Linked DNA regions of Homo sapiens: region 1 is linked to region 2. A link means that fine-mapping ties the variant in region 2 to the expression of a gene that starts in the linked region. Tissue or cell type: whole blood. Region 2 holds a variant in brackets; the other region holds the start of a gene. All regions are shown on one strand. Distances are from middle to middle.

Evidence for each region. PIP is the estimated chance that this variant, and not a neighbour inherited with it, causes the effect.
Region 1: SMG1 starts here. The variant in region 2 is fine-mapped to the expression of SMG1 in whole blood (TOPMed, PIP above 0.99).

What each region holds. Positions count from the first base shown.
Region 1 is chr16:18,921,515-18,936,163 of GRCh38, reverse strand. SMG1 (SMG1 nonsense mediated mRNA decay associated PI3K related kinase) reads left to right here and starts at 9,756. Exons shown (of 63, transcript NM_015092.5): 1 at 9,756-10,214. The coding sequence starts at 10,123. SMG1-DT (SMG1 divergent transcript) reads right to left here and starts at 9,977. Exons shown (of 2, transcript XR_001752094.2): 1 at 9,890-9,977. RefSeq lists enhancers at 8,663-9,276, 9,277-9,889, 12,723-12,782 and silencers at 9,575-9,914, 9,945-10,534.
Region 2 is chr16:18,948,534-18,963,793 of GRCh38, reverse strand. No RefSeq gene overlaps it. Among named protein-coding and RNA genes, the nearest start is that of TMC7, 28 kb to the left of the region's middle. The variant G/A (reference allele first, on the strand shown) is at 7,349.

The sequences.
Region 1 (14,649 bases), 27 kb after region 2:
GAGACCTTGTCTCTACAAAAAATTAAAAAATTAGCTGGGCATGGTGGCACACACCTGTGGTCCTAGCTACACCTGAGGCTGAGGGAGGAAGCTCACTGGAGCCTGAGAGGTCAAGGCTGCAGTGAGCCATGATTGCACCACTGCACTCCAGCCTGGCTGACAAAGCAAGACCCCGTCTCAAAAAGTAATGAAAAAAAAAATATCCTCACAGACACACCCAGAATACTGTTCAACCAAATATCTGGGCACCCTGTGCCCCAGTCAATTTGACACATTAAAATTAACTGTCACAATATCCTTCCAGCCTTTTCCTATATCTATATAACATTACATAACATATATATAGATAGCTATAAGTCTATTTCTTTTCTTTATTATTATTATTTTTAAGATAGGGTCTTACTCTATCACTCATGCTGGAGTGTAGTGGTGCAATTTTGGCTCACTGCAACCTCCACCTCCTAGGCTCAAGCAATTCTCTCACCTCAGCATCCTGAGTAGCTGGGACTACAGGTGTGTACCACCATGCATGGCTAAATTTTTTTTTTTTTTTTTTTTTTTTTTTGTAGAGACAGGGTTTCTCCATGTTGCCCAGGTTGGTCTTGAAATTCTGGACTCAAGTGATCACTCACCTTGGCCTCCCAGAGTCCTGGGATTACAGGCATGTGTTACCAGGCCCAGCTGGTGTATTTCTCTTCTTTTTCTTCTTCTTCTTTTTTTTTTTTTTTTTTTGTGTGTGTGAGATGGAGTCTTGCTCTGTCATCCAGGCTGGACTGCAGTGGCATGATCTCAGCTCATAATAACCTCCACCTTCCGGGTTCAGGCGATTCTCCCACCTCAGCCTTCCAAGTAGCTGGGATTACAGGCACCTGCCATCATGCCTGGCTAATTTTTGCATTTTTGTAGAGACGGGGTTTCACCATGTTGGTCAGGCTGGTCTCCAGCTCCTCTGTGGGAGGTGGGGGGATTGCTTAAGGCATGGAGCTCAAGATCAGTCTGGGCAACATAGAAAGACCCCATCTCTGGGCGGGCAGGGTGGCTCACGCCTGTAATCCCAGCACTTTGGGAGGCCGAGGCGGGCAGATCACGAGGTCAGAAGATGGAGACCAGCCTGGCCAACATGGTGAAACCCTTTCTCTTCTAAAAATACAAAAAATTAGCCGGGCATGGTGGCAAGTGCCTGTAATCTCAGCTACTCAGGAGGCTGTGGCAGAAGAATCGCTTGAACCCGGGAGGTGGAGGTTGTAGTGAGCTGAAATCGTGCCACTGCACTCCAGCCTGGGCGACAGAGTGAGACTCTGTCTCAAAAAAAAAATTAATAAATAAAATAAAAAGGCTGGACATGGTGGCTCACACCTGTAATCCCAGCACTTTGGGAGACCGAGGTGACTGGATCACCTGAGGTCAGGAGTTCGAGACTAGCCTGGCCAACATGGAGAAACCCTGTCTCTACTAAAATACAAAGTAGCCAGTGTGGTGGCACATGCCTGTAATCCCAGCTACTTGGAAGGCTGAGGCAGGAGAATTGCTTGAATCTTGGATGCAGAGGTTGCAGTGAGCCATGATCACGCCATTTCACTCCATTCCTGGGTAACAAGAGTGAAACTCCGTCAAAAAAAAAAAAAATCCAACTAGCCCAGTGTATGTTGTGGAATACACCTGTAGTCCCAGCTACTTGGGAGGCTAAGGTGAGAAAATCACTTGTGCCCAAGAGGTTGAGCTGCAGTGAGCTGTGTTTGCAGCACTGCAACTCAATCTGGGTAATAGAGCAAGACCCTGTCTCAAAAAAAATAAAAATAAAATAAAAAAGTAAAGAAAAGAAAGAAAGAAAAAGAGAGAGACTGGGCACAGTGGCTCATGCCTGTAATCCCAGCACTTTGGGAGGCTGAGGTGGGTGGATCACCTGAGGTCAGGAGTGCGAGACCAACCTGACCAACATAGTGAAACCCCATCTCTACTAAAAATGCAAAATTAGCCGGGTATGGCGGCAGGCACCTGTAACCCCAGCTACTCGGGAGGCTGAGGCAGGAGAATTGCTTGAACCCGGGAAGTGGAGGTTGCAATGAGCCGAGATCGTGCCACTGCACTCCAGTCTGGGTGACGGACTAGACTCCATCAAAAAAAGAAGAAAGAGAAAAAGAGAAAAGAAAGAAAGAAAGAAAAGAAAGAAAGGAAAGAAAAGAAATAAAAATAAAATTCTTAGTAAGTGGCTGTTATTAGTTTGACACAAAGGTAAAAAAGATGGTATCTGCTTTTAAATTGAGTAGTACAGGGCCAGGCTTTTATTAGTCCCCTTCCATCCCTGATGTTTGCTGGGAGTAAACACTTCCCCAATACTTGTTGATAATTTGGAGATTAGACTATTATTTTTCTACAATCCTATTATTTTCATATCCCTGTTTCCTTTACCTGAGGTGATGTAATACTCAGCCATCTGCTCCCCTTCATCTAAAAACTACCTTAAGTCCTGCTTTATCTGAGAAGCCTCTTCCAGGGACCAGCAGGGAGGGTCCTCTGAGACGTGGTATGCCTGGGGGATGGTGAAAACACTATGCCAAGCAGTGTGACCTTCAAATTATACAGCACAAAACACTTTATGGAATAAGCCTCCATTTGCTTCCCTGGTATGGGATGAAGAAATCATTTCAGCTAAGACATAGATAGCAGTGTCCCAAAGAAGCTAAATGATCCTATTTCAACTAGAAGTTCTGAAGTGAAATATTTATCCTTCCCTTATTTGGTAGTCTCTTTAACTCTTTAGAGTTAAACTTGCTGGGCGCAGTGGATCACGCCTGTAGTCCCAGCTACTCGGGAGGCTGAGGCAGGAGAATCGCTTGAACCCAGGAGGCAGAGGTTGCAGTGAGCCAAGACTGTATTTTTAGTAGAGATTGGGTTTCACCATATTGGCCAGGCTGGTCTTGAACTCCTGACCTCAGGTGAGCCACCCACCTCAGCCTCCCAAAGTGCTGGGATTACAGGCATGAGCCACTGCGTCCAGCATGTTAAATGATAACTGTATAAACAATAGAGGGCAGTAACTTGCTGTTGGGAGATTTTATTTACATAAGTTTGCATTTTATTTACATATATTCCTAATAATGGATTAATCAGGGAAAGCAAAGGAGTTAGCTCCATTAAAATCACCATGCCAGTCCTTGGGCAGCTCAGGACCAAACATAAGGGAATTTCACTTTCTTGTTTTCTCCAATTTAAAAGTTACAAATAGCTTAAGATGAGCATCACCGGCTTCCTATTTTATTGTTGAAAGAATGCACGAGCCACTGGGCAGCACTTCTTGTGCCCTGATTCATAGAATTTTGGCCCCTGCCTCAAGCTGAGACTGCCCAAGTGGAGATTTCAAATGTGTCATGAGGTTTCTCAGCCAAATTCCTCCTGCACCAGCTTGAAAAATCGCTATAAAAATAGCCCTTACTGAGGGAGCCTGACCTGTGACAAAGATTTCCTAGCTGGGAGCAGGAACAAGAAGGCTGCTGTTTTTCTTTTTGAAAAATCTGCTTTAATGTCTTTATGATGTGGATTTGCTTTTAAGATTGCATTTTAAAAATCACCCATGTAAGTTGAGTCTCCTGGTTGAGAATAAAGTTCCTCAATTCTTGGTGCCTAATAGGGGTTAATCCTGGGCCAGACATAGGGTCAAAAGAAAACAAAAGAGAGAATTCTCTTTTGTTTACTTAGAGAATAAATGTCAGTACAGTGTCTCTCTAGGAAGTTTGGAAGATTTCTAGGAAAATCCTGGTGATGAAAGACCCTGGGGTTGGTTTGTGTTCGAATCCTTACTGGAAGATCTTTTAGGAGTTAAGACAGGATCACGTTACTCACAGTTTTTGAGGTTCTGAGTGTATCAAAAATTTAAGAAATAACAAAGAGCATTCACAATTTGTACTATATTTTGTTTCCTTTTTATGTTTTGAACACTTTTAACACAAGGGGAAACAAACTATGAAGCGATGTAATTACATGTTCACCAGGTAATAATATAATTTATTAGGAAGTATGAATGCCATGCACAGCCTCTACAGGTGTGTGAGCTGGTAATGGACATAGTTTGTTAACTTCAGACTTCCTTCCTGTTCGAGTGTCTCTGGGACTCTGGGTCTAACTTCACTAGGCGATCACGTCAAAGGTCTAAATCTGACGCCTTTGACGAATGTGGAGTTGGGGCCAAATGTCCCTTCTGTCTCTGCCTGTGACATTCCCTTCCTGGCCCTGCCTGCTACCAGCTGGGTGACCTTGTGCAGGGAGCTAGCTTCTCTTGGTATCACAGCCCCAAAGTGTAAAATGCCACATTGAAACCTACCTTAGCTTGGTTTGGGGGAATTCCTTGAAGTAACAACTCATATTGATCATTTGACTGAGTGGTTTTGCATTAGTAAATGCTCAATAAAGGCCGAGTGCCGTGGCTCATGCCTGTAATCCCAGCACTTTGGGAGGCTGAGGTGGGCAGATGACCTGAGGTCAGGAGTTCGAGACCAGCCTGGCCAACATGGCGAAATCCTGTCTTTACTAAAAACACAAAAATTAGCTGGGCATGGTGGCACATGCCTGTAGTCCCAGCTGCTCGGGAGGCTGAGGCAGGAGAATTGCTTGAACCTGGGAGGCGGAGGTTGCAGTGAGCCGAGATGTTGCTACTACACTCCAGCTTGGGCGACAGAGCAAGACTCCATCTCAAAATAAAATAAAATAAAATAAAATAAAAAATAAATGCTCAATAAACATTAGGTAGAGTTGGTCACTATTTTTAGAGCTAAGACTTGATGTCTTGGCTAAAGTTTACTCAGTTGGTCTGTCTGAGTCACTGCCACACTCTAAGAGTATTCATTCTCTGTTCATTCATTCAACACCTATTTATTGAATGCTTACTTTTAGCTTTGTAAATTTTTGTTTTAGGCCGGGCACAGTGGCTTACACCTGTAATCCCAGCACTTTGGGAGGCGGAGGCGGGCGGATCACCTGAGGTCGGGAGTTTGAGACCAACCTGCCCAGCATGGTGAAACCCTGTCTCTACTAAAAATACAAAAATTAGCTGGGCATGGTGGCAGACGCCTGTAATACCAGCTACTCGGGAAGCTGAGGCAGGAGAATCGCTTGAACCCGGGAGGTGGAGGTTGCAGTGAGCCGAGATCGAGACATTGCCCTCCAGCCTGGGCAACAAGAGCAAAACTCTGTCTCAAAAAAAAAAAAAAAAAAAACAAAACTTCACAAATGTAATTTGTAATGGCTGCAGAAAATTTCAGCTCTGAATGTACTGCATCCTAATCAGTTTCCTATTGTTGAGCATTAGTATAATTTCCAGGTGTTTTGTTTTTGTTTTGCTATTAATAAGTAAAACTGAGATGAATACTTCTGTATCAATCTTGATCCTTATTTTAGATAATTTCCATTTCATTCCTCCCATTTCTTGAGTGCTTCCTATGGTCAGGTGCTGTGCTGTGTGCTGAGTATGGAGGAGGTAGGCTGAGATAGATGTGACCTTTGCTCTTGCAAAGCTGATATCCTAAGGGTTGGACCGATGCTAAATATGCAAAGAAACCCAATACTTGCAGATGGTGCTGGGTACTACCAAGGAAAGAAATAGGGTATGTGACAGAGTACCTGGAAAGGGCACTGGCCAGCTTTTATGGGCAAGGGACGTCAAAGAAACCTGTCTGGAGATGAGACAGGCCAGGAAAATCAGGGCAGGGGCCAGAGTAGGGCAAATGTGGTGCCTAGAGCCTCATTTTTTTTTTTAGATGGATTCTCGCCCTGTTGCCCAGGCTGGAGTGCAATGGCAGGATCTCAGCCTACTGCAACCTCTGCCTCCCAGGTTCAAGCAATTCTCCTGCCCCAGCCTCCTGAGTAGCTGGGATTACGGCAGAGCCTCAAATTTAAGGAGGGACTTACTCACAGGATTGTGCAAATGCAAAGTTGGCTTTTGCATGACCCTGGGAGTAGGTGCCTCCTTAAATTTTGCACCCTCAGCAACTCCATCACCTGTCACGTTGCTAGTCCCAACCCTGATGGGAACAAATGCAGGGAAGGCATTCCAGATGGCGGGAACAGCAAGTACAAAAATCCAGAGGCCAGAAAGGCTTGGTGTGTTTCAGGAACAGAAACTCGGCTCCCATGACTGAAATGGAGTAGGGAAATCCTAATGGAACCAGAGAGGCAGAACCACCAACAGGAAGAAGAAAAAAATGTTGGAAGTTATGAGAGTTGCTCACGTTTGATTCATTTGATTAATTTTATTGAAATGGAGTCTCACTCTGTTGCCCAGGCTGGAGTGTAGTGGCACGATCTAGGCTCACTGCAACCTCCACCTCCTAGGCTTAAGTGATTCTCTCATCTCAGCCTCCCAAAGTGCTGGGATTACAGGCGTGAGCCACCATGCCCCACCTGAAGCAATTTCTCTGTTGTCTTTTTTTTTTTAACTTCTCTCATAGAAATAATTAACCCTCAAAAACACTCAGTGTTGACAAAGGGTGGTGTGAGGACACAGAAAGTATCAGACTATCATTGGCAGAAACTTCTGGAAAGCAACTTAACAGTCTGTATCCAAAGACTTAAAATCATTAACAGCCTTTTCCCCAATAACTCCACTTCTCGGAATCTATCCTAAGGAAATCTGCCACAGCCAGAGTGATTTTTTCCGTCCCCTTAAGAAATGGTCTCATCCTGTTGCCCAGGCTGGAGTGCAGCGGCACCATTATGGCTCACCACAGCCTGAAACTCGTGGGCTCAAGCGATTCTCCCACCTCAGCCTCCCAAGTAATTGGGATCACAGGCATGCCTCCATATCCATATGCCTAGATGGATAATATTTTGACCAATAAAGAAAAAGAGGGCCAGGCGCGGTGGCTCACGCCTGTAATCCCATCACTTTGGGAGGCCGAGGCGGGCGGATCACGAGGTCAGGAGATTGAGACCATCCTGCCTAACACGGTGAAACCCCGTCTCCACTAAAAATATAAAAAACAAAATTAGCCGGGCTTGGTGGCGGGCGCCTGTAATCCCAGCTACTCGGGAGGCTGAGGCGGGAGAATGGCTTGAACCCGGGAGGCAGAGCTTGCAGTGAGCCGAGACTGTGCCACTGCACTCTAGCCTGGGCAACAGAATGAGACTCCATCTCAAAAAATAATAAAAATAAAATAAAAAAATTAAAAAGAAAAAGAAAGGTAGTACCAGAGATTGTGTCCAGTTGCTCAAGCAATTTCTAACTTGTCTAATGTAAAAAAATTTTAAATTTTTACACAAAATTAGCCGGGCATGGTGGCATGTGCCTGTAATCTTAGCTACTTGGGAGGCTAAGGCAGGAGACTCGCTTGAACCTGGAAGGCAGAGGTTGCAGTGAGCTGAGATCGCACCATTGCACTCCAGCCTGGGCCACAAGAGTGAAACTGTGTCTGAAAAAAAATTTTAATAATTTTTGTAGAGATGGGGGTCTCACTATGTTGCTCAGGCTGGCCTATAACTCCCAGGCTCAAGGATCTTCCAGTCTCAGCCTCCCATCACTGGAATTACAGGCATGAATCACTTCACCTAAATGATTTTTTTTTTTTTGGAGACAGTCTTGCTCTGTCACCCAGGCTGGAGTTCAGTGGCATGATCTCGGCTCACTGCAACCTCTGGCTCCCGGGTTCAAGCAATCCTCATGCCTCAGCTTCCCCGAATAGCTGGGACTACAGGCGTGCGCCACCATGCCTGGCTAATTTTTGTATTTTTTTGTAGAGATGGGGTTTCACCATGTTTGTCAGGCTGGTCTCCTGACCTCAAATGATCCACCCACCTCGGCCTCCCAAAGTGCTGGGATTACAGGAGTCAGCCATCCATGGTGCCCCTCCTTTTCTTTTTCTTCTCCTCCCTCCCTCCCTCCCTACCCTCCGCAGCCCAGGCTGGAGTGCAGTGGCGGGATCATAGGTCACTGCAGCCTCCACCCGCTGGACTCAAGTCATCCTCCTGCCTCACCCTCCTGAGTTCCTGGGACCACAGGCACGCGCTACCACGCCAGCTAATTTTTGTAATTTTTGTAGTCCCCATCATTTAGAACTGGCAGGATCCTCCCTTAGTGAGGGATTGGTGGCCATAAGCAAGGAGCCCAAGGTGGAGGGGATATGCATGTGTGTGAAGGGGTCAACTCCTCGTAATCTTCAAGTACTTTTGGTAACAATATTTATTTGCACAAGCGATATATAAAGACGTTTTCTTTGCAACATAAAATGATAGGTTATGACTCCTTATGCAGATACGGTTTAGACACTCGTTTAAGGAGCATCCTGGCCCAACTTTTAAAAAACGTGTGTGCATTCACGTTATGCATCAGATGCTTTAGGGAACTTTTTTCCCTGGGGCATGGGACACGTCATGGGGTAGACGGTCGGGTACGTCTCCTCTACCCAGCTGCTGCTTTGTTTTTTTTTTCTTTTTGAGACAGAGTCTTGCTCTGTCGCCCACGCTGGAGTGCAGTGGAGCCATCTCTGCTCACTGTGAGCTCCGCTTCCCGGGTTCACGCCATTCTCCTGCCTCAGCCTCAGGAGTAGCTGGGACTACAGGCACCCGCCACCACGCCCGGCTAATTTTTTGTATTTTTAGTAGAGACGGGGTTTCACCGTGTTAGCCAGGATGGTCTCGATCTCCTGACCTCGTGATCCGCCCGCCTCGGCCTCCCAAAGTGCTGGGATTACAGACGTGATCCACCACGCCCGGCCTTCTCTCTTTCTTTTCTTTTTTCCTTTCCTTTCCTTTCCTTTCCTTCCTTCCTCCCTTCCTTCCTTCCTTTTTCTTCCCTCCCTCCTTTCTCTCTCTCTTTTATTTTTTTGAGACAGAGTTTCACTCTTGTTGTCCAGGCTGGACTGCAATGGTCTGATCTCGGCTCACTGCAACCTCGGCCTGCTGGGTTCAAGCGATTCCCCTGCCTCAGCCTCCCAAGTAGCTGGGATTACAGGCGCCCTCCACCATGCCCGGCTAATTTTTGTATTTTTAGTAGAGGCGGGGTTTCTCCATGTTGGCTAGGCTGGTCGGGAACTCCTCACCTCAGACGATCCGCCCACCTCGGCCTCCGAAAGTGCTGGGATTACAGGCGTGATCCACCGCGCCTAGCCCCCAGCTTCTTTCACCAGCAGAAGGCGGGCAAGCCTCAGGGTGAAAGGACTTCAAAGCACATTTCACATTGCAGAGGACAGGGTTTGGTGATCGTGGGTACTCCCTTCCCTTCCATCGTTTAGTTTTTTTCATTGTGAAGAAATGGTAAAAGGTGCCAGGACTCGATGGGCACATTTCAGGTGGAGGTTGGGAAGGTGGATATCCACCTCTCGATCTTACTATTTTCACTTTCCACCCCACCCCGTAGAAAGTGGGAAAACTGGCGCACGTGAATCCAAGGGCACGCCTGTGTGCGCGCGCACCGCAGGGCACCAGCCCCCACCCACACCGCAGGTCCTTGATTGGACGCCTGTTTACACCTGACTGCCCGGCCCTCCGGTGCTTTCCGGGAAGCGTTTGGGAGAAAAGTGTGTGGCCGCAGTAGTGGAGATCCCCTGTCTTAGGATTCGTCACCGCTACGCCCAGACCTCTTCGCCGCCCAAGGGCCTGGGGACGTGGGGGGCGGGGCGGCCTGCTATCGACCCCGCCTCTCTCGGCTCCGCCCCGCCGACAGGACCCGCCTCTCTCCCCAGGCCCGGCGGGCGCCAACCCCGCCCCTCGCTCCCAGCATGCCGTGCGACAGCGGCGGCGCGGCGGGCGGAGCCGGGAGGCGGGGAAGCAGTGGCCGTGTGAGCGTGAGGAGCTGCCGCCACCGCCTGCTCCTCGTCGTCCTCGTCCTCCGGGGCCCCGGCGACGTGGGCCGCGCACGGCCCTGGAAAAGACGTCGCCTCCCCTTCATCCGCCTCTCTCTCACCGCGCCGCTCCCGCCTCCTCGTCCTGCGCTGCGGGCTCAGGCGGAACCCGGAACGGCCGTCCTCTTCCCCCGCCCTCCGCCGCCTCCTCCTTCTCCTCCTCCTCCTCCTCCTCCTCCTTCTCGGCTTCCTCCTCAGCCCCGGGCCGGAGCGGGGTGTCGGCGGCGGCCGGTTCGGGCGGCGACTCGCGCTTCTTTGGGCGGCGGCGCTTGGCCATGTCGTGTCGGGGAAGGTAATGAGCCGCAGAGCCCCGGGGTCTCGGCTGAGCAGCGGCGGCGGCGGCGGCGGCACCAAGTATCCGCGGAGCTGGAATGACTGGCAACCCAGGTGGGTGACCGGCCCGGGACCCCGCCCCGACCTCCCGGGCTCCGCCTCGGGCGGGCCGAGGCCTAGGGCCGCGGGGCTGGGAGGCGCGGCCTAGGCCCTCCACCCCTCGGAGCCGGGCGCGGCTTCCTGGGTCTCCTCCGCCCCGGCTGGGGGAGGAAGGCCGCGGGGAGGCGAGGCCTAAGTGCCTCCCCTCCCTGCTTGTTCAGCCCGGGGCTGGAGCCGAGACCCGGGGCTCCCGGCGGTGGCACTGGCCTGGGGTCGGGACCAGGAGGTGAGAAAGAGGCGGGGGTGGGGGTGGGGGGCATTCCAGTTACAGCCTCCCCCTGACCCCGAGTTGGGAGATGCTGAGAGTCCAGGACCCTCCCTGTTACTCATTCACTTTCTCGGTTCCCCACTCTTTCAGCCGCCACGTGAGAGCTCTTCTAACCTCTGTTCCTTTCTGTGACCCCCACGTGTTAATATTGAAAAAAACAAAACAAAACTCCAGCTAAGGCATTGCTCTGACTCTAGGCAGAACATTCATTAGTGGAGCATGAGATGAGATTGTGTGACTGTTGATGGGATCGACCCACGCTGGTCTTGGGCGATGGAAGTTTTCCCTAAGTGCAAGGCCGGTTACTCTGGTGAATCGTAATTCATACCTGGACACTTGAGTGAACTCTTTGGGCACCCACTTAGAAGTCTAGAGAATTTCCTCATTTATGGAGGATTTGATCTCAGACCGTTTTGGGGCTTAGTGAGATTTGAATATATTAGGAACATTAACTTTTTAAATAAATGTAGTTTCCTGTCTTTTTGATCAATGGGAGGGCAGCTGTGCCTAATTTAGGACTGATTTATTCTAATCTCTCTTAATAAATGCTTGTATTCAGAGTCTGTTTGGAATTTAACCCAATGCTTAGAACTCCTTAAATATACAGAAATATATTTTAGGGGTAATTGATTCATGGAACTCTCCTACTTTGGAGCACAATTGTTATAATTGTCCAGAAACTGGCCAAATAATGTAGAACGCGCAAGTTGTTGGGAAGCCCTTTTGTTTCCTGATAGTTACATGTAATTCCAGCAGTATTTGGAAATAATTTGCTAAGATGTTAGAATGTAACATTTGAAGACTCGTTAGAAAAATCAATAAAATTATCTTTGGCTAATAGGTGGTACACATCTTAGTCTATTTAATATGCCTTTCCAAATACTGTGTCTGTTGAGAATTGGTGTATATAACTAGATGACTTTAATAATTAGTGCCTGAGTCTAGAATTGAGATGTTTAGTCGTAAAAAAAAAAATATTGTTCGATAAACAGCGTTGACTTGTCTTGTACCACTTAAGAGTTTGTGAGTGCTTTAAATAAAATTAGTTGATTAAGTATTTTTTTCTATGATTGACATGCTTAGTTTTGCCTTTTTATTGAAATGTGTGAAATTTGATTTTCTGGCATCTAACAAATTAGGTGGTAAATAAATGACAATGGATTTTCTATTATTTTTCAGTATTGTGATCAGTATAAGTATATAAGAGAATTTAGTAACCTTTTAGAAGAATAAAGTGCCCTTCCCAAATAGTCCTACAGCTTTTGGAAAAGTGTAAATTGTAGTTGGTAGTTCTAAATAAATAGAGAAGAGTCGCAGCCACGTGCTAGGGCCAGCTGACTTCATTGCTGACAGGTATGAAGCCAAATGGCTTATGTAGTTATGGAATATGTACATGAGCTATTAATAAATATTATCCATGTTGTTTCTTTCAAGTGCTTTATTTCTTGGCTCTGGGGAGGGGCGATGGGGGAAGGGAGGAGCTTACAAGAAAGCTTACAAGGTTTCTTTGAAGCTGTGCTTTTTGTAAGAAAGTTTCAGGATGTAACGCCTTGGTAGACGATACTGTGATATACATTTGGTTATAGGGAGTAACAGTTTGTTAGGATGTTGGAAAGATTTGATTTTCTCCTGTTGTAGAGGGAACAGGGAAGTGTGGACATACCCCATAGCATAACTTGATTTGTTGCTAAGATTGTCATAGCTGATTTGTTAGTCAATAAAAATACCTGGGGTGTTTGCCAAGTCATAAATTTTTATTAGTTAAATTTGAGGTGATTCTGTCCCCTATTCAGAAAGACGACAGACTCCAGGTAACTGACAGAACGGATCTTGATCTTGCTTCTTGCTTAAATGAAGGTTTAGAACATCTTCAGATGCAGGCACATTTATTATGGTTCATCTGAATAATTTTGATTAATTTTTTTTTGCCTCTTATGTACCATTTTGTCCCTGGTGTTTTGGTTCTGTTTTCCTTGATGTAGGCCTTTTTTTTTTCCTTCCTGAGATGGAGTCTTGCTCTGTCTCCCAGGCTGGAGTGCAGTGGTGTCATCTCGACTCACTGCAGCCTCTGCCTCCCGGTTACAAGGAAAAATTCTCCTGCCTCAGCCTCCTGAGTAGCTGGGATTACAGGCGTCCAGCTAATTTTTGTATTTTTAGTAGAGACGGGATTCCACCATGTTGGCCAGCCTGTTCTTGGACTCCTGACTCAGGTGATCCGCCTGCTTTGGCCTCCCGAAGTGCTGGGATTACAGGTGTAAGTCACCGCACTCAGCCGATTTAGGCTTTTGAAAAAGCAACACTTGTTGATTTCTTTTAGTGTTAGTTTGCCAGTTGGTGTGGAAAATGACTGTTGAGTCCATTTTGACCACACATGATACTTCACACATACTGACAGGAAGTGTTGCAGGTGGCTGTATACGTGAATGTCTTATGGCAAGAGAGCAAACCCGTGTTCCATAGAAGCATACCTCCAACAGTAAGCATTTATATGGCACTGGCTTATAGTCTTCCTTTTCATTCACTGTGCTCCCAGTCAACTCTTCTGTAAATTTTTTTGAGAACAGGGTCTTGCTGTGTCACCCAGGCTGGAGTGCAGTGGCACAGATACTTGGCTTACTGCAGTCTCGACCTCCCAGGCTCAAGCCTCCTGCCTCAGCATCCACAAGTAGCTGGGGCTACAGGCGCTTGCCAACAGCCCGGCTCATTTTTGTATTTTTTGTAGAGATGGGGTTTTCACCACGTTGCCCAGGCTGGTCTTGAACCCCTGAACTCAAACAGTCTGCCCACCTTCAGTCTCCCAAAGTGTTGAGATTACAGGTGTGAGCCACCGCACCCGACATTTAAGAATGGTTAAGCAGGCCGGGGGCAGTGGCTCACACCTGTAATCCCAGCACTTTGGGAGGCTGAGGTGGGTGGATCACCCGAGGTCAGGAATTCGAGACCAGCCTGGCCAACTGACATGGTGAAACCCCGTCTCTACTAAAATAAATAAATAAATAAATAAATTAGCGGGATATGGTGGTGCATGCCTGTAATCCCAGTTACTCGGGAGGCTGAGGCAGGAGAATCACTTGAACCTGAGAGGCGGAGGTTGTCCTGAGCGACATCACACCACTGCACTCCAGCCTGGGCAACAGAGCAAGACTCCTTCTCAAAGAATGGTTAAACAAATGAGTGGTCTTAGGTCAGTTGTATTATTTGAAATCTATGGGTTCCTCAAGCGTAAAGTTGAGAAGGTTTTGGGAACCACTGGATGCCTCTGGTTTTTTTCATATGAAGAAACAGGGGTGGTGGCTTCTTAGAACAAAGGGATATCTGACCTATGGAGGTTGCCCTCTTTACTCCTCTTCCCTAAAAAAATGACCTATCATTGCCAATAGCTAAAGTCTGTCATTTTTTCCACCTTAGTTTGGAAGATAATCTTCTAGTATCAATCAAGACAGAGATCAGAATGATGTGTTTTAAAATTAAATGTGTAATTCATAATTGTACATTTTAATATTCTAAAGTGACTGATTAATTTGACATTGGAGTCAAATAGATTGATTAATTCAACAAAGAAGAGAAGGCATTCAAGTCAACAGAAAACAAGTAGATTTTACTTCTCCACTCGGGGTTTTAGGACATTAATTGTGTAATTGGTCTTACTTGTTTAGTAGTAGATCTATATTGAGTGTCTTACTGTGCCCAAACTTAGGATCTTTCTATACTTCTAAAAGGATGAAACTGTATAATAAAAAGACCTTCCAATTTTGGTAGATTGTAGACAGATTAAAGTATTCAAAAGTACACACATCTTCTCTGTTGTGAAAGACCAAGAAATGGAAATGTGTTGTGAAATTAGAAAAGCTGTATACTAGTATGTCTGATGTTGTGAGAAGCTGGATTTTTGAAACCAGAGTTGTCTATTCAGCCTTTTATCAGTCTGTACTAAGTTTGATGTCCATAGGTACATAATACGGGGAAATACATAAAGGATAAAATTAAGTGAAGTTACATATTTTATACCTATTAGGTGGGTGCAAAAGTAATTGCGGTTTTGGCAAAAACCGCAATTACTTTCACACCAGTCTAATATTAAATGGAACTAGAGTCAAATAGAATTCAGTGATTTCCAGTTCT
Region 2 (15,260 bases):
AGGCAGAGGTTGCAGTGAGCCGAGATCACACCATGGCACTTCAGCCTGGGCAACAAGAGCAAAACTCCATCTAAAAATAAATAAATAAATACAAATAAATAAAGGTAAATAAATCAAGAAGAGGCCAGGTGCAGTGGCTCATGCCTGTAATCTCAGCACTTTGGAAGCCCGAGGCCGGCAGAATACTTGAGTCCAGGAGTTACCACCCTGGACAACATAGTGAATGCCGTCTCTACAAAACAAAACAAAACAAAACAAAACAAAACAAAACAAACAAACATATATATATACGTATATATGTGTATATATACGTATATATGTACATATACGTGTATATATGTATATATACATGTATATATGTATATATGTATATATATGTGTATATATACATATATAAATACGTGTATATATATGTATATATATACATATATATATAAAATTGGCTGCGCCCAGGGTCTCACTCCTGTAATCCCAGCACTTTGGGAGGCTGAAGCAAGAGGATCACTGGAGCTCAGGGATTTGAGACCAGCAACATAGTGAGACCCCATCTCTAGAAAATATAAAAAACCAGTTTGGCATGGTGGTGCACAGCTACTTGGGAGTCTGAGACGGGAGGATCACTTGAGCCTCGGAGGTTGAGGCTGCAGTGAACCACGATCACACCACTGTACTCCATCCTGGGTGACAGAGTGGGACCCTGCCTCAAACAAACAAAGCAGTGAAAGGAATGTAAAGACATCCTCCAAAATTCTCATTTTCTCATTATGATGCTTCAATGCTTTTATCCAACTATTAAATATCAAATTATTTCTAAATAATTTGGGGGTCTCCCCTGTTTTGCTACTGGCCCTAAACTCTATTGGGTAATCCAGCCCTGATACAGCTCATTTCCTTAGCAAACATTTATTTGCTCAACGAATATTTACATGTTGATATTTGCCAAGTGCCAAGCATTCTAAGAAGACAAAAGTTACCTAAAAAAAAATAATTTTATATATATATATATATATATATATATATATATATATATATATATGCCTTCAAAGAATTTACACGAGGGGTCAGGGAAATGACAAGCAAATTTCATTCTTGTAAAAACGAGCCCAGAGCCATCAGTACGTGGGGGATTAAGTGGCTTCACCACAAAGACACAGACTTGCTGGGACTTGAAGAGAAGCTCGTCTGCCAAGTAGGTGAGGGAAAGAGGAAAGGAATGCCTGGCAGAGTACAGCTGGGTGAGCGGGGTGTGCCCTCGAGTTCTGGGAGCTAGGTGTCACCCTGCTTGGGCAGGCTGGATCTGTAGTTAGAGGTGGAAAAGTGGGCAGAGACCAGATCTGGGGGCTTCCAAAAAGCTCCTTCTTAGCCGGGTGCAGTGGCTGACGCCTGTAATCCCAGCACTTTGGGAGGCCGAGGCAGGCAGATCACTTGAGGTCAGGAGTTGGAGACCAGCCTGACCAACATGGTGAAACCCTGTCTCTACTAAAAAAACAAAAATTGCTCAGGCTTGGTGACGGGCACCTGTAATCACAGCTACTCAGGAGACTGAGGCATGAGAATCTCTTGAACCTGGGAAAGGGAGGTAGCAGTGAGGCGAGATCATGCCACCACACTCCAGACTGGGTGACAGACTGAGACTCTGTCTCAAAAAAAACGAAAGCCTCTTCTCATAAGTTTACTCTACGTGAAGGTAACCGAGATGCTCTTAGGCAAGGGAGGCTCCTGGTCAGAAATAAGTTGTTTGGGAACACGAAATGTCCCCTGGCAGCTTTGGAGGAGGCCGGACTGAAGGCAACTGGACCAGATCCAGGGCTATTGCTGCAAGGAAGGCGTGACCCAGAAAAGGAGCAGAGGAAGGCATGGATTTGCCAGAACATGGAGGTGGAACCGACAGGACTTACTGATTGATCATAGGTCCGGGAGCATGAGAAGGAGGAGGCAGGCTGATTCCCAGGTTCTAGATGGTCACTGGGAGGATCCTGGGTCAGGAAACCAGGCAAGGAGCTGCAGGAGGGAAGAAGGAGATGACCATTAGGTCTGGGACCCACTGAGTCCCAGGGCCTGTGGATGTCCAGGTAGAGATGGCGAGTCAGCCACTGTGTGGGCAGAACTGGAGTTCTAGAGAGAGGATGGGTGAGAATAAAAGCAGGGACTGTGCTGTGGGTTTGAGTGTCCAGGCAGGAGACAATGGAAGGACTGCAGCAGTGAGATCACCTTTGCAAAAATTATGACAGGGAGAAAAATCTGATATAGTTGATTCCATCTTGCTCCTTTTTTTTGTATACAATTTTTTTTTTTAATTAACTGGACATGGTGGCACACCAATAGTCCCAGCTACCTAGGAGTTCAAGGATGCAGTGAACTGTGATCACACCACTGCACTCCATCCTGGGTGACAGACTGAGACCCTGTCTCAAAAAAAAAGAATAAAAGTAAAAATAAAAAATAAAAAGAGCCTGCACCCTCCATCTCTCTCTTGCTTTCTCTCTCTCCATGTAATCTCTGCACACAGGAGCTCCCCTTTCCCTTCCACCATGAGTAGAAGAAGCCTGAGGCTCTCACCAAATGGCTAGTCTTCCAGCCAGCACAATCATGAGCCAAATACGCTCTTTTCTTTACAAATTACCAGTCTCAGGTATTCCTTTATAGCAACACAAACAGACTAAGACATTCCTGTACAGAAAGTCTGCCAACTGCTGATCTAGGAAAACTGACTGTGGCATCTGCTCCCTTAACCACTGCCCTAGACTGCCTCTGGGGCCCTCAGCTAGCAGTGATGATAAATGCTGGTGTGTTTTGACCCTCCAACAAGATGCATCCTTTGGAGAGAAGGGACATGACCCTTCTTAGGTACAGTTTTTTTTGTTTTTGTTTTTTGTTTGTTTGTTTGTTTTGAGATGGAGTTTTGCTCTTGTTGCCCAGGCTGGAGTGCAATGACACAATCTCAGTTCACCACAACCTCTGCTTCCTGGGTTCAAGCAATTCTCCTGCCTTAGCCTCCTGAGTAGCTGGGATTACAGGCATGCGCCACCATGCCTGGCTAATTTTTTTTTTTTTAGATGGAGTCTCGCTCTGTCGCCCAGGCTGGAGTGCCGTGGCAAATCTCAGCTCACTGCTATCTCTGCCTCCCGGGTTCAAGTGATTCTCCTGCCTCAGCCTCCCAAGTAGCTGGGACTACAGGCACGTGCCACCATGCCTGGCTAATTTTTGGTATTTTTAGTAGAGATGGGGTTTCCCCATGTTAGTCATGATGGTCTTGATCTCCTGACCTCGTGATCCACCGCCTCGGCTTCCCAAAGTGCTGGGATTACAGGCGTGAGCCACCGCACCCAGCCTTAGGTACAGTTTTTATAGTAATATATTTGGATTTTATTAATGAACATTTGTCTCAAGAACTAAACAGTAATGTAACAGCTAAAATGTGATGCATAGAAGACAATATAGGAGTAAATCTTTGTAACTTTGGGTGAAGCAAAGCCGTCTTAGATATGACACCAAAACACAAATGACAAAAGAAAAAAATAGGGCTGGGTGCAAGTGGCTCGTGCCTGTAATTCCAGCACTTTGGGAGTCTTGCTTGAGCCCAAGGAGTTTGAGACCAGCCTGGGCAACATGGCAAAACAAATCTCTACAAAAAATACAAAAATTAGCCAAGCACGGTGGCATGCACCTGTAGTCCCAGCTACTAGGAAGGCTGAGTGAGAAGGATCACTTTAGCCAAGGAGGTTGAGATACAGTGAGCCGTGATTGCACCACTGCACTACAGCCTGGGTAACAGAGCAGGACCCTGTCCCAGAAAAGATAAGAAAAAAAAATTGATAAATTGGACTAAAAAAAGTAGTGATGCTGGGCATGGTGGCTCACACATGTAATCCCAGCACTTTGGGAGGCCAAGGCGAGCGGATCACGAGGTCAGCAGATAGAGACCATCCTGGCTAACATGGTGAAACCCTGTCTCTACTAAAAATACAAAAAATTAGCCGGGCGTGGTGGCGGGCACCTGTAGTCTTAGCTATTCGGGAGGCTGAAGCAGGAGAATCGCTTGAACCCGGGAGGCAGAGGTTACAGGAAGCCAAGATTGCGCCACTGCACTCAAGCCTGGTCAACAAAGCAAGACTCCTTCTCAAAAAAAAAAAAAAAAGTAGAGATGTCTAGGCCTCACCCTCAGAAATCCAGATTTAAATGAGTTGCAGCAGAATTCAAGCATCTGTATATTTCTAAAACCTTCACATTGATTCCAAGTATAGCACCCACTGCCTCTTTTGGCAAATTACATGTATTTATCCCTGGATTACTGCACACACTTCCTGATGGATGGTAGATTTTGAGCTGCTCTCAGTCTGAAAGTCAACTCACTTAATCTGTTCCTGTGCCTGCCACAAAGCTGAGCTGTTGACTATAAATAGCCACAAAAGACTGGAGTTTGTTCTCTTGTTCATGAACCCTTCTAAGTGTTAGATACTGTCATCCAAAGACCACCAAGATGACTAAGTAACAGGAGAGTTGTATTTGGTGACATCAGTTCACAAACCAGGAAGAGACAGTCTCCTGAATGTGTGGAAGCTGCTCTCTCTTTGACGGGAGAAAGGGCAGGCTGGGTTTTATGCCTTACAGGGCCTGTATTACACAATGGAATCATACATATTCAGCAGGTTTGGGGAAAAGACTACGCATATTTATGAGGGGAATTAAGTACATGCACAATGGGTAAACATATGTGTAACATACATCCCATGTTCACATTGGGGTGGGGTTTTAGCAATAAAATGAGGTGGAATTTGGCTCTCTGTGTCAAAAGGTGAGCTATAGGACACAAAGACAGTTTGTGTGCAGTCTCTATAAGCCGGCTGAAACTGCTTAAGGTCTGCAGTTGCTCATCAGAAGACAATGTCTATAAGGTCAGTCCTCTGTCCAATCAGAGTTGTAGCAGTCTGGGTATAAATCAAAGTTAGGAGGGGTATGATAATTTGCCTTGACATCTCCTATTGTGAGGGAGCTTAGCAAGAGTGTAGTTATTCTTGCAGCCATAGGAATTTAGGAATTTAGGAAGGAATTCATGCCAGCCAATACCTAAACCCGTGACCTGTAGGTAATTTTTGTTTCCTTAACCTTAAAGTCCATCTTTTTTTTTTTTTTTCTTAGATGGAGTCTTGCTCTGTCACCCAGGCTGGAGTGCAGTGGCACAATCTCAGCTCACTGCAACCTCCACCTCCTGAATTCACGCCACATGCCATTCTCCTGCTTCAGCCTCCTGTAGCTGGGATTACAGGCACGCCCCACCATGCCCAGCTAATTTTTGTATTTTTAGTAGGGACGGGTTTTCCCCATGTTGGTCAGGCTGGTCTCAAACTCCTGACCTCGGGATCTGCCCGCCTCGCCTCCTAAAGTGCTGGGATTACAGGCGTGAGCCACTGCACCCGGCAGGGTCCATCTTAATCAAGAGGAGTCTGTTTTGGGCTCTCAGATGACAACACAAACACTTCCTCTTGTCTGGACTGAGACAAGATCCTAATAACTACTTGCCCACAAGATGGGAACACAGCAGGAACCAGCTGTGGGGATTTGGAAAACAGTCCAACAGCAATTTTTTCCACACAGCACACTATTCTGTTCAGAATCTTGAACCTGGCTATAGTTAAGGGAGCCGCACCCACAGATATAAGCCAACTACCTAACTCAGAGATCTTCAGTAGCTTCTCTTGGCCTTCACCATGGTCTGCGTAGCCTGGTTCATTGCAGCAGTCAGGGCTCAATGCAGAAATACTATGAGCTATGGGATAAGAGAGTTACTCTAGGAATTAGACCTTACAGAATCATAGGAGAAGCTGGGGAAGGGACAGACTAGGAGGAAAGTTGGAGGCTCAGAGGAGGTACTGGCCAGTCCATCTGAGTAGCCAGGCACATTTAGTCACTGAAAGAGGATGGCCAAGGGAACGCTCTATGGTAACCTGTGCCTGTATGTAGCTACTACCACCAAGCACCTGGTGGTGGGCCTGGGGCTGTGTTGGTCATCAGGGTCAGAAGTCAGGAGAAGAGCTAGATGCAGAGGACAGCAAGGACAAACTGGAGCCCACAGGTATCTGTGTCTATTGCCACATCTAACCACAGTGGCCTTGGGGGATGGCTGCTGCTCACTTGCACCTGCCTCTTTCAGCCAAGTCTAACTGTGGCTAGAATCCCTGAAGACATAATTTCAAGCTAGAGTCTCCCTCTGTCACCCAGGCTGGAGTGCAGTGGCATGATCTCGGCACACTGCAACCTCTGCCTCCCACGTTCAAGTGATCTTTGTGCCTCAGCCTCACAAGTGCTGGCCACCATGCCCATGTTTTTTGTTTGTTTGTTTTTTTGAGATGGAGTGTTGCTCTGTTGCCCAGGCTGGAGTACAATGGCGCGATCTCGGCTCACTGCAACCTCTGTCACCCGAGTTCAAGCGATTCTCCTGCCTCAGCCTCCCAAGCAGTTGAGATTACAGGCACACACCACCATGCCCAGCTAATTTTTGTATTTTTAGTAGAGATGGGGTTTCTCTGGGTTGGTCAGGTTGGTCTTGAACTCCTGACCTCAGGTGATCTGCCCGCCTCGGCTCCCAAACTGTTGGGATTACAGGCGTGAGCCACCGTGCCTGGCCAAAACTTTTTTATTTTTTGAGAGAGAGAAAGAGAGAATTTTACTCTGTCAACAAGGCTAGAGTGCATTGGCACAATCACAGCACACCATGGCCTCAACCTCTTGGGCTCAAGTAATCCTCCCACCTCAGCCTCCCAAAATCTGTGATTGCAGGGGTGAGCCACCATGCCCAGCCTCCCATATAACTTTTGACTCCCCCATAACTTAACTACTAATAGACTACTATTGACCAGAAGCCTTACTGATAACCTAAAGCCAATTAATGCATGCTTTGTTTTGTTTTGTTTGTTTGTTTTTGAGACTGAGTCTCACTCTATTGCCCAGGCTGGAGTGCAGTGGTGTGATCTCAGCTCACTACAATCTCCACGTCCTGGGTTCAAGTGGGAGGCTGAGACAGGAGAATTGCTTGAACCCAGGAGGTGGAGCTTGCAGTGAGCCAAAATTGTGCCACTGTACTCCAGCCTGGGCTACAGAGCAAGACTCCGTCTCAAAACAACAAAAGTCTTCACCTCCTTGTCTTCACATTGAGGAGGCTGAGAGGAGGTGGAAGAGGAGGGGATGGTCTCGCTGTCTTAGTGATACAGGAGATAGAAAGAAATTATTTAGGCAGACAATGACGGCAAGAGAGTCCTCAGTAGAACTTCCCTTCTAACAAAAAAAAAAAGCCCAAGAAATCACTTTCTAAAAAGGAGCAGCCTGAAAGATCAGGCTGCAAACATAGATA[G/A]GGAAACTGGAAGCTTGCACGGGGGAATGCCGGCAGCTGCATGAATAGAAAGGACGACCCGGGGCCAGGCAGGTCCACCGTGGGGGCAGCTGCATGGATAGAAAGGACGACCCGGGGCCAGGCAGGTCCACCGTGGGGGCAGCTGCATGGATAGAAAGGACGACCCGGGGCCAGGCAGGTCCACCGTGGGGGCAGCTGCATGGATAGAAAGGACGACCCGGGGCCAGGCAGGTCCACCGTGGGGGCAGCTGCATGGATAGAAAAGACGACCTGGGGCCAGGCAGGTCCACCATGGAGGCTCCACCTTCCCTTTTTTGTTAGCACATGCGCAGTGTGAAAGAAATAAGCAACATGGAGTAGCTCAGGCAGAGGATACACCTGCATAATAAACAATTGAAGTGGGGGCTGCCAGAGATTCAAGCCCTATGCATACGGCACACCTGGTCCTAACCAGTTTTCCGTGCCCTGTGTAGATCAAATACCGCCTCCCACTAGCTCATCTGTAAAAACCCTTGCGATTCACTGAGCTTCAGCAACCCATTTTTCCAGGACCCCTCTCTGTAGCAGGGAGCTATTCTCTTTCTTTCACCTATTAAATTTCTACTCTAAACCTCACCTTTTGTATGTGTTCAAGTCCTTGATCTCTATGGCCATGAGACCAAGAACCTTGGGTGTCACCCCAGACATTAAGGCTGCTTCATTAGGGGTAGCAGAGGTGGAAGCAAATCCACATAGAAGTGGACACCTGCTCAGTTCAAAGCCGTGTTGTTCAAGGGTCCGCTGTGTGTAACTATTGGTTCCATTTATTTGTAGAACCCTATTACTCCCTCTCTCCTGCCTCACTTTATTTTATTTTATTTTGTTACAGAGTCTCACTCTGTTGCCCAGGCTGGAGTGCAGTGGTGCAATCTCGGCTCACAGCAAACTCCACCTCCTGGGTTCAAGTGATTCTCCTGCCTCAGCCTCCCAAGTAGCTGGGATTACAGGTGCCCACCACCACACCTGGCTAATTTTTATATTTTTAGTAGAGACGGGGTTTCACCACACTGGCCGGGCTGGTCTCGAACTCCTAACCTCAAGTGATCTGCCCGCCTCGGCCTCCCAAAGTGCTGGGATTACAGGCGTGAGCCACCTCACTCTTCTTTCTGCTCTCAGATGTTGCCACATTCTTTCACACTTCAGGGACCCTTTTTTTTGAGATGGAGTCTCACTCTGTAACCCAGGCTGGGGTGCAGTGGCATGATCTCAGCTCACTGCAACCTCTGCCTCCAGGGTCCTGATTCAAGCAATTCTCCTGGCTCAGCCTCCCTAGTAGCTGGGAGTACAGGAATGCACCACCACGCCCAGCTAATTTTTGTATTTTTAGTAGAGATGGTGTTTCACCATGTTGGCCAGGCTGGTCTTGAACTCCTGACCTCGTGATCCACCCACCTCAGCCTCCCAAAGTGCTGGGATTACAGGTGTGAGCCACCACACCTGGCTGAGGGACCTTTGCTTCTATAATAGCTGATAATCTTTTCCCCCTCACCAAATCTCCATCTAGCCCCTTCTTCCTCATCCCCTAAGACCCAGCTAATGTCATTTTCCTTGGACTTCCACTATAAATGATACCCTAGATATTTTCTCTCACATACACAATTGGGATTGTACATATGCAACACAGAGACAAGTTCATAACACAGCTTTGGGTTATACATTGACTTACTTGCAGTTATCTCTTTCTTGTGCCAGCTCTGAAGCTCCTTGAGGGTAAGGAGTATGTCTATTTTATTCACCATTGCATATAGTAGGTACCTTAAAACATATTTATTAAATGAGCAAAGCAGCCTGACGCAGTGGCTCACGCCTGTAATCCCATCACTTTTAGAGGCCAAGGCAAATGGTATCACTTGATCTCAGGAGTTTGAGACCAGCCTGGGCAACATGGCGAAACCCCATCTCTACAAAAAAGTTTCCTAAAAAATTAGCTAGGATCGGCCATGGTGGCTCATTCCTGTAATCCCAACATTTTGGGAGGCCGAGGCAGGTGGATCACCTGAGGTCAGGAGTTTGAGACCAGCCTGGCCGACATGGTGAAACCCCATCTCTACTAAAAATACAAAAATTAGCCAGACATGGTGGCACGCACCTATAGTCCCAGGTACTCAGGAGGCTGAGGCAGGAGAATCATTTGAACCTGAGAGGCGGAAGTTGCAGTGCATTCCAGCCTGGGCAACAGAGCCAGACTCTCTCGGGGGAAAAAAAAAAAATTAGCCAGGTGTGGTGGCATGTGCCTGTAGTCCCAGCTACTTGGGAGGCTGAAGTGGGAGGATTGCTTGAGCCCAGGAGGTTGAGACTGCAGTGAGCCTATATCGTACCACTGCACTCCAGGCTGAATGACAGAGCAAGACCCTGTCTCAAAAAAAAGAAAAAAAAAAGAAAATGAGCAAACCTAGTCATTTTGAAGGCCAATGTTTGACATGTATTTTAGAGAGAAAACAAAATTGGTCCCTTGCCTAATATATGGTGGTGTTTTGCTATATAATTTATGGTCTACATGTAACAAAACAAAAGAAAGCAATATTTAAAAACTGCCAGGAGGCAAAAATTAGCCTTACCACACACCAATCCTGCCTGGGTTCCCTCCAGGGCTGGAAAAACCATTTAGAAGCAATTGCTGAAATTTTGTTTGTAGCCTAATTAAATAACCAGCTCTCACCAGGAGTTTTAATGGCCAGCCTAAGAGGTCCAGAAAGTTTTTAAGGCTTAATGACCTGCATACACTCTCAGCCCTACAGGATTCTTTAATATCTGCATAATTTTCTCTGTGGGAATGCTTTATCTGAATAGACTGTTTTGCTTTAGAAAATATTTTTGCAAACTCTAAGAAAATATTCCAGACAAGCCATAATCCCAATGATAACAGAGCTTCCTACTGCAATACATGAGTTAATGAACACAAAGAGGTTTGTGGAATGCCTGACCTATAGCAGGTGCTTAATAAATGGTAGTTGCGGGGGCGCAGTGCCTCAGGCCTGTAATCCCAGCACTTTGGGAGGCCAAGGCGGGACCTTGGGATCACCCAAGGTCAGGAGCTCAAGACCAGTCTGGACAACGTGGTGAAACCCGGTCTCTACTAAAAATACAAAAATTAGCTGGGCATGGTGGCGCACGCTTGTAATCCCAGCTACTCAGGAGGCTGAGGCAGGAGAATCGCTTGAACCTGGGAGGTGGAGGTTGCAGTGAGCCGATATCACGCCACTGCACTGCAGCCTGGGCGACAGAGTGAAAACTGTGTCTCTAAATAAATAAATAAATAAATGGTAGTTGCCTTCCCACATCTCAAGGGCTATTTAAAAATCCTACCTATTAGCCGGGCAGGGTGGCATTTACCTGTAGTCCCAGCTACTTGGGAGACTAAGGTGGTAGGATCGCCTGAGCCCAGGAGTTCGAGGCTGCAGTGAGCTATGATTGTGCCACTGCACTCAGGCTGGGTGACAGAGCAAGACTCTGTCTCTTAAAAATATATATATATATATATTCTTATGGGAGCCAGATGGGAGAATGTTCAATGTCAGGAATGTCCCTAAAGAGACCAAGCTTGTTGCTCCAAAAAGTTATTTCTGAATCAGCGTAATGTTTTCTCCAGTTTTTACTTCACATTTTGCATTTAGAAAGGGAGAAAAGATGGCCAGGCACAGTGGCTCATGCCTGTGATCCAGCACTTTGGGAGGCCGAGGCAGGTGGATCACCTGAGGTCAGGAGTTCGAGACCAGCCTGGCCAAAATGGAGAAAACCCCATCTCTACTGAAAATATAAAAATTAGCTGGGCGTGGTGGTGGGTGCCTGTAATCGCAGCTACTCGGGAGGCTGAGGCGGGAGAATCACTTAAAACTCAGGAGGTGGAGATTGCAGTCAGCCAAGATTGCACCATTGCACTCCAGCCTGGGAGACAAGAGCAAAACTCTGTTTCAAAACAATTAATTAATTAATTAGTTAATTTAAAAGGAGAAAAGAAAAAAGCATGCTGATTTACAAATAAGCTTCAAGATGAAGCAGAGGTAAGGCCCAGAAGCTGTTTTTAAATATTTATTTTCTAGCCTGGCCAACATGGTAAAAGCCCAGCTCTACTAAAAATACAAAAATTAACCAGGCATGGTGGTGCACGCCTGTCATCCCAGCTATTCAGGAGGCTGAGGCAGGAGAATCGCTTGAACCTGGGAGGCAGAGGTTGCAATGAGCTGAGATTGTGCCACTGCACTCCAGCCTGGGTGACAGAGAAAGAACCTGTCTCTAAATAAATAAATAAATATCTTCCCCCAGGAAATTTCCTTTACTTACCTATTTAATTTCTTTCAGGGGCATTTTCATAACCAGTAGCCTGAGTTAAGTGGCACTTAAAAAAAAACAAAACAAAACAAGGTCTCAGTCTGTTGTAGAGACTGGAGTACAGTGGCCCAATCATAGCTCATTGCAGCCTTGAACTCTTGGGCTCAAGCAATCCTCCTGCCTCAGCCTCCTGAGTAGCTGGGACTGCAGGTGCATACCACCATGCCCGTCTAATTTTTAAAATTTTTTTTTGTAGAGATGAGGTCTTGCTATGTTGCCCAGGTTGGTCTCAAAATCCTAGGCTCAAACCATCCTCCCTCCTTGGCCTACCAAAATGCTAGGTTTTTTTTTTTGTTGTTTGTTTGCTTTGAGACGGAGTCTCGCTCTGTCACCCAGGCTGGAGTGCAGTGGTGAAATCTCGGCTCACTGCAAGCTCCACCTCCCGGGTTCACACCATTCTCCTGCCTCAGCCTCCCAAGTAGCTGGGAATACTGGCACCCGCCACCAAGCCCGGCTAATTTTTTGTATTTTTTTAGTAGAGATGGGGTTTCACCGTGTTAGCCAGGATGGTCTCGATCTTCTGACCTCGTGATCCACCCGCCTCGGCCTCCCAAAGTGCTGGGATTACAGGCATGAGCCACCGTGCCCGGCCGCAAAATGCTAGGATTATAGGTGTGAGCCACCATGCCCTCATAAGAAAATTCTTACTCCTTGGACCATATCTTGGTGTCTCTATAGCTATAGCTCAGTTCTTCTACCCTTGGGATAAAAACTAAGGTGGTTAAGCCATGATACTGTAAAGGAGTCATGGGATTTTACTGACATAAAGGTGATGTTCTACCACTGTTCTAACTTAGGAAATCTGCAGCATGCCCAGGCACAGGAGTTTACCCTCCCATCAGCACCACCCTCTGAGGACAAGCCCCATCACCCTCTGCTCTAGAGAGGTGGCAGTTGTCCTGAACTATGGCGGAGGCAGTTGTCCACGTGGAGTGGATAGATTGGAGAGCTGGCAAGTCCTGTGGCATAAATAGAGGACCACAGGCTGGCTACAGTTGGTAGACACTTCTCCCCAGGTGGCAAGAGAAGGATGGCCAATGCAGCGTCTGGACACTGACAATTTATACTTTCTTAAGTGAAGATCAGTGGCCTCCCCTTGGTCTTCCCTTTGGTAACACAGCTGCTGTCTATGAGGTCCCTCACCTCTTCATCAGCCCACAGGAAGTGGTTCTTTTTTTTCATCTATATAATTGTGTTTCTTTTTTAAGTTTTTCTTTTTCTTTCTCTTTTTCTTTTTTTGAGACAAGGTCTCTTTTTTTATTTTTTTATTTGTATTTTATTTACTTATTTATTTTTGAGACAGAGTCTCGCTCTGTCGCCAGGCTGGAATGCAGTGGTGCAATCTCAGCTCAATGTAATCTCTGCCTCCTGGGTCCAGGCGATTCTGCTGCATCAGCTTCCCGAGTAGCTAGGACTACAAGGCACGCACCACCACACTCAGCTAATTTTTTGTATTTTTTTAGTAGAGAGAAGGTTTCACCATGTTGGCCAGGATGGTCTCGATCTCTTGACCTTGTAATCCACCTGCCTCGGCCTCCCAAAGTGCTGAGATTACAAGCGTGAGCCACTGCACCCAGCCACAAGACAGGGTCTCATTCTGTTACCCAGGCTGGAGTGCAGTGGTGTGATCATGGCTCATTGCAGCCTCAACCCCCTGGGCTCAAGTGATCCTCCTGTCTCAGCCTCTCCAGTAGCTGGGACTATAGGCACACACCATCCCACCTGGCTAGTGTTTGTTTTTTTGTTTGTTTGTTTGTTTGGTTTTTTTTTTTGGAGATGGGTTATTGCTATGTTGCCCAGGTTGGTCTTGAACTCCTGGCCCCAAGTGACCCTCCTGCCTCAGTCTCCCAAAGTGTTGGGATTACAGGTATGAGCCACTGCACCCAGCCTATAACTATTTTTCTATTTATTTGAAGCACAGTTAAAAAAAAAAGGTATACTTTGGAAATTCAGTGACACAAGTTACACTGCCATAACTGAGAGATATCATACAGTTAAAAAAATTAAAAAGTCTCTCTGAACCTATTCTGGTTCAGGAGTCTGCTCAATAAAAATAATAATAATAGGCTAGGCACTGTGTGCTCATGCCTGTAATCCCAACACTTTGGGAGGCTGAGGTGGAAGGATTGCTTGAGGCCTATGTGTTCAAGACCAGCCTGAGCAACATAGTGAGGCCCCATCTCTACAAAAACATTTTTTAAATTAGCAGGGCAAAACTGGGTGTGGTGGTTCATGCCTGTAATCCCAGTACTTTGGGAAACCAAGGTGGGCAAATCACCTGAGTTCAGGAATTTGAGACCAGCCTTGCCAACAAGGTGAAATCCTGTCTCTACTAAAAATACACACAAAAAAATTATCCGGGCATGGTGATGTACACCTGTGGTCCCAGCTACTCGGGAGGTGGAGGCAGGAGAATCGCTTGAATCTGGGAGGCAGAGGTTGCGTGAGCCGAGATCACGCCACTGCACTCCAGCCTAGGTGACAGAGAAAGACCCTGTCACAAAAAAAAAAAAAAAAAGGAAGAAAGAAAGAAGGAATGAGAAAAACAAAAGAGCAGGGTGAGGTTGTGTGCAACTGTAGTCCCAGATACTCAGCAGGCTGAGGTGGGAGGAGGATCCCTTGAGCCTAGGAGTTCCAGGTTGCAGTGAACTATAATACTCTCAACCTGGGCAACAGAGTGAGAACCTGTCCTCCCTGCCAAAATAATAATAATAATAATAATAATTGTTCTCCCATTTTGAACACTGCATTACATAATTTTACCTGCCCAAGGAAGTATTTCTGAAAGTGTGATCACCAGAACTGGCAGATTCAGCCACACTTCTTTTTTTTTGGGACGGAGTTGCGATCTTGTTGCCCAGGCTGGAGTGCAATGGCATGATCTCGGCTCACCACAACCTCCCCCTCCCGGGTTCAAGCGATTCTCCTGCCTCAGCCTCCTGAGTAGCTGGGATTACAGGCATGCACCACCACGTCTGGCTAATTTTGTAGTTTTAGTAGAGACGGGGTTTCTCCATGTTGCTCAGGCTGGTCGCGAACTCCCGACCTCAGGGGAGGTGATCCACCTGCCTCGGCCTCCCAAAGTGGTAGGATTACAGGCGTGAGCCACCGCGCCCAGCCACACTTTGTTAAAAATACAAATTCTTGGGTGGGTGAGACCACCCTTGCCAACAAGGTAAAATCCTGTCTCTACTAAAAAAAAAAAAAAAAAATTGGCTCATGCCTGTAATCCCAGCAGTTTGGGAGGCAGGAGGATCGCTTGAAGCCAAGAGTTGGAGACCAGCCCGGGCAACACAGCAAAACCTGGTTTCTAAAAAATAAAAATATAAAAATAAAAACTTAGCATGGTGGCATGTGCCCGTGGTCTCAGCTACTTTGGGAGGCTGAGGCAGGAGGATCACTGGAACCCAGGAGTTCAAGGCTACAGTGAGCTATAATGGCACCACTGCATTATAGCCTAAGCCAGATTCTCAAGCCCTACCCAGACCTGATGAGTCGGAAACTCAGGAGGGTGGATCCCAGCGATCTGTGTGGTTTTTTTGTT